2 linked regions of the Homo sapiens genome follow. The protein of the gene in region 2 purifies or fractionates together with the protein of the main gene of each other region. This does not show direct contact. Each region holds a gene or a part of one and is shown on either strand. Other genes may lie near its edges.

Region 1 (2,631 bases), on a different chromosome or scaffold from region 2:
AATGAAATAGAAAGTTTCATCATTACCGTTTCATTCTTTTGCTTTAGAATATTACACAGGCTTTGTTACTTACCCAGGACAAGCCATAATTTCTCTGAGACTCAGTTTTCTTATCTGTAAAGTGAGAAGAGTAAGATCTATTTCACAGAGTAGGGATTAAATGATAAAGTGTATGTAGAAGAACTTTAAACACTGAGTAGTGCCTGCTGTCTGTAAGGCATTATTACAAAACTACCACAGAGAGGGATAACATTTGTTCACATCAGTTACACTTTTGTACATTTTAGATCTCTCGAGAGGAGGATGCTTCTGCCCATGAGAGACTCTTGAAGATATTAATTAAGCTCACAGATTTCTACTTTGTGTTTAGTGTTCAGGAAGTCCCCTTGAAATCACTTTTACTTTACTTTGACTTCAGTAGGAAGATAGTTCATAATGACACCATCAAAGTAAGTTTTAAGCGTTTCGGGCCTGCTTTTCTCAGGTTTGAGTTTTTATAGTTTGTAATGATTTTTTTAGTAAAATAAGCATATGATTAAAAGTTTTATATTAACTACTACAACTTTTAAGTATCAGTTGCTTCTACATAACCACTATATTTACTGTTCTGAACAATACATACTTCAAAGCACATGAAATTGAAAAAGCAAAGCATCTTTACTCTCTTCATAGAGAACAGAAAAAAATATTAAACTTTTAAGCATTATAAAATACTTTATTGAATAAAATGTTAGCAAGTCAGCAATTGATGAATAATTTGCTTTGAAACTTTAACTTGTAATCTGGCTAATTAGCACTAATTTACAAACTATTCTACATTGTAAAGGAGAAATGAATTTCTGGTGTTGTCCTTCTTTGATTTAGAAGCTTAACATCTGCAGGACCTAATTGGCCATTGATGTGAGGGTGAGGAAGAAGGAACCACATCGCAGGGAGAAAAGACTAAAGGAAGGCAGAGGCTCTAATATCAGGTCAATATAGGTCAGCACACTACCCACATGAAATGGCTTTGGCTGGGTTCCAAGGTCAAGTAAATAAGATCAATTTTTTCATTCCTTCAATTACATATTTTTTTGCTAAGCTTCGGTCATTCATGGTATACAATGCATCTAACTTGCTGAGCAAAATGCTAGACATGAAATAAATGTTAGCTATGGTAGAAGAGCTTCAGTAACAGGTAACCTGAAACAGGCTGATAGCTCATAGAAGGGCATGCTTGAATTCGGGGAAAAAAAAAAATCTCTGTTAAAATGGGATGCAAAACACTTTATACATTGCTTTTACAAAAGTTAGACTAATTTAAAGGAAAGTCTTCAAAAGCAATCCGTGATCGATAAAATTACAGAAAAAAATCAGGAAAGGGGGAAATAATAAGGGAAGAAAGATTAGCAGAACAATCTTCCGCCCCAGTAAAGAGGACTGAATTTTAACCAATGAGATCACAAGTTTGAAAATTTCCTTTTCAGGCCCAATCAAGAGGAGGCTATGTCTATAAATACGACTGCCTAGACCCTCTCGTATCAATGAGACAGCATGGCCCGTACTAAGCAGACTGCCCGCAAGTCGACCGGCGGCAAGGCCCCGAGGAAGCAGCTGGCTACCAAAGCGGCCCGCAAGAGCGCGCCGGCCACGGGCGGGGTGAAGAAGCCGCACCGCTACCGGCCCGGCACCGTGGCTCTGCGGGAGATCCGGCGCTATCAGAAGTCTACGGAGCTGCTGATCCGCAAGCTGCCCTTCCAGCGGCTGGTACGCGAGATCGCGCAGGAGTTTAAGACGGACCTGCGCTTCCAGAGCTCGGCCGTGATGGCGCTGCAGGAGGCCAGAGAGGCCTACCTGGTGGGGCTGTTCGAAGACACGAACCTGTGCGCCATCCATGCCAAGCGCGTGACCATCATGCCCAAGGACATCCAGTTGGTCAGCCGCATCCGCGGGGAGCGGGCCTAAGGTATATTTTTAAGTGGTCGATCTAAAGGCTCTTTTCAGAGCCACTGCCGTTTTCATCAAGAGCAGCTGTACCGGCTCTCCATCTGATGTGCGTCTGCCTTGCGCAGCGGTCAGGGGCCAGGGGCACTCGTGGTGGGTGACGTTACAGAACCCAAAGCCCAGCCGTGAGTTGGCCGGCAGTAGAGAAAGCCGCAGAGGCATGGTCCTTGTGGTTCCGGCCGAGCCTTTTCACGCTGGTTTAAGGCTAGAGGTCCGGCTCCCAATTCTGTGGGTAAAGTTTTGCATGGGGGCAAGAGACTATGGGGAGTTTCTAGATGTGGAAGATCCTGAGTGTAAGGGTGGGGCGAGTCCCTTAAAAATTATAAACTCGTTTCCTGGTTTATTTAGGAACTATAAGCTTAATTAAAGCTCAGCATCTTCCTCATTGCATACTACAGGCGGTGTCCAAGCCAGAATAGTAATTTAAGCGGGCGGGAGTAAATATCTGGCGATTTTTAAAAATGTGTGGGTGAGGTAGTATTTCAAGGAAGAGAAAAAAATTTCCACAAAGTATAGAATAAAAATGCAAAAACGAGGCAAGAGAGTTAACTTGTCTAGCTGGCGTTAAGATTTCTTCCGTATGCAAGTCTAATGGAAAGTGAAAACCAAGAAAAAAACCTCAAGCCGTTGAAACTATCGCTTCACCTA
Region 2 (2,677 bases):
TAGTGGAAGAAAATTCAGTGGAAGGTTATTGCTATTGTCATTTGCATAGAATTTAAGTGATTGATTTAAAAAAACTGGACATAAACTAAGTCTAAGAAGAGGGCTTCTGAATAACTTCATTCATTTTGGCATTTGTTAAGAGATTCCTGGGCTAGAAGGTTGATTTCCCAAAAAGACAGATAAGAGACTGACAATTTAAAAGAATCTGGAGACAGAGCTGGTGCTTACAGAGACCTGCCACTCCTGTGTTCACTTACAATTTCTCCCAACAAAAGGATTTCTGTGGCAAGGAGAAAACTAGCCTAAAGTTTAGAAAAAGATGGTTTCTTGGATAACATTGTTAACAAAAGGACTTCCTGAGGACTATTTATTATTATTTTGTAGGGGGCACTTCCTCCTTCACTAAACTGGATTATCAGAACGTATTACCACCCAACCCATATTTTAGAAGTTTGGATTTGGCTGCTGATTAGAAATGAATTTCAGGCTATCTCCTCCTACTGAATCTTAATTGTCTGTGATGATGGCAACAGTGATGGGGAATCTAAGCGCTGGTTTGATGGTGGAGATATTGAATAAGTAGTTGGGAGCAGAGTTCCAAAGATGTAATTTAAGCCCTGTTGCACCACCACACACACACACACACACACACACACACACACACACACACCCCTCAAGTAAAATGAGAGATCTGTCTTAGCTAACACGTGTGCCGTTTTATACAATGACTCCTTCTAAAAGCAGCCAGGGAAACTCAAATCGCTTCTGTCCAGGGATCATCTCAGGAAATGTAGCAGCCTAGAAACCAGAGACCTCTGTATATCCTTTGGAAGAGCAAGGAGGAACTAATTAAGAGATAATTAAAAAATAGTAACTATCCCCCAATGTCTGAGATGGAAAAAGGAAAAAGACACATGGGTAGCCCAAATCAACCTGCCTGAGTAAGTATCTGATTTTAGTAAGGCATTTGACAAAGACTGTCCAGCTATACCTGAAAGATGAAACAGTGTAGGCTGGGTGATGGAGCAGATATATGTACTCAAATCATGGTGTTTATTTAACCCAGAGAAAGGCCAGCCGTGGTGTGCTACAAGGTTCAGTCTTGAGTCCTATTCTGGTCAAATATTTTTATTAATTACTCGAATAAATCAGAGTACATGGACAACTTTATACAACTCCTTGAAGTAAGTACTATTATTATTAATTTATGACTTCCATTTCACAAAAGAGGAGACTGAGGCTCAGTGAAGTTAGGTAACTCCTTCATAGTAGCATGCCAGAGTGAAGATGCAAACCTCAGACCTGGTTCTCCAATGTTCCTGACACCTATCGAATTTAGAGAATACACAACTCTTGCAGAGGCAGCTGCTATTTAGTATTGGATCATGATTCAAAAGACACCTTGCTAGAAGCCAATGAACAGCAGGCCAAAACAACACTTACTTGCATCAAATTTCATCTGACTTAAATTCTTACACTTTGGGCTACAACTTAAAAAAGGCTATGACTTAGTGGAAATTGGCACTTTTAAGTACAATATGAATTAATAGTATAATTTCGCTGTCCCCCAGAGATAATGCTAGTACCAATCGAAAGCTCAGGGATGCTACTGTTGACGCATCAGCAAGAGTTCTTGAGCAGTTTTACCTGTCCATCAATACAAAGAGTTCCCACAACAGTAGTGGGATTCCTCTGCCTCTCTGAAGATATGAGAGCTATAGGAGGGATTCCCATGTTGGAGGTTAGAAGAGCTGACCTCCAATGTCCCGTCTAATTCCAAGATTCTCCAATAATGACTTTGGAACAGCTGTGTACAGATTATACTTGGAATTATGCTTAGATACTATTGCTGCAGGAATGAATAGACAAATTTTGTTATTAAAAAATTGATTTTATTAAGTGGAAGTTGACAGAATTATCCTCTTTATAATGGAGGAACATTATGCTTATGCATATGCATATACCTTATGCATATGATTATGCTTGTGCTTCCTTCTTTAATGGATTTACCTATTCAAAAGCTTAATAAATGTTATAAGACTCTAAAACATTTAAATCTTTCATTTCTCAATTTTATCAAATAAACATTCCTGGAATTTGTGCATATTTTTTCATCCCGTGTTTTGGTTGTTTCTTCCGTATAGACCAACACCAGACTTTAAAAAACATAATTTATTTTTGTTCAGTTTGAGGCACTAGTTATTTTAGTGATGCTTACTTAGCCACTAGTGCTATTCTCCTAATATTTCTGTCTTCCAGGCATCCATAATGGGGTCGCACTTCTTGGCTCTCTGATGGGTGGATATGGCCACGTGGTTAGTTCTGGCTAATGAATTGTGAGTGGACGTGATCTCTGTCACTTCTGGGCCAAGCATTCATTTGATTGCCAGTATAAGACCCTCCAAATTTCTTTCCTTTTTTTTTTTTTTTTTTTGTTCTGTTTTTTGAGACGGGGTCTCACTATGTGGCCTAGGCTGGCATGCAGTGACTATTCACAGGTTGTGATCATCACACACTACAGACTCAAACTCCTGGGCTCAAGCAATCCTCCTACCTCAGCCTCCCAAGTAGTCAGGACTACAGGTGTGCACCACCACATCTGACTCAAATTTCACTTTACTTTCCCTCGGTTCCAGTGACCAGCAGTGTTTAAGATGATCCCAGAATGAGGAGATGT

Evidence for each region. Proteins that work in one complex are often made in the same cells at the same time.
Region 1: the proteins of CDK15 (region 2) and H3-7 purify together in Homo sapiens (affinity purification with mass spectrometry; 2 studies listed by BioGRID and IntAct, with this or other methods). This does not show direct contact.

The regions. Positions count from the first base shown.
Region 1 is NC_000001.11:143,904,869-143,907,499, reverse strand, and holds H3-7 (histone H3-7), read left to right. Parts: upstream 1-1,522; 5' UTR 1,523-1,533; coding exon 1,534-1,944; 3' UTR 1,945-1,990; downstream 1,991-2,631. UniProt on the Homo sapiens protein: Core component of nucleosome. Nucleosomes wrap and compact DNA into chromatin, limiting DNA accessibility to the cellular machineries which require DNA as a template.
Region 2 is NC_000002.12:201,893,445-201,896,121, forward strand, and holds the end of CDK15 (cyclin-dependent kinase 15), read left to right. Parts: 3' UTR 1-2,106; downstream 2,107-2,677. UniProt on the Homo sapiens protein: Serine/threonine-protein kinase that acts like an antiapoptotic protein that counters TRAIL/TNFSF10-induced apoptosis by inducing phosphorylation of BIRC5 at 'Thr-34'.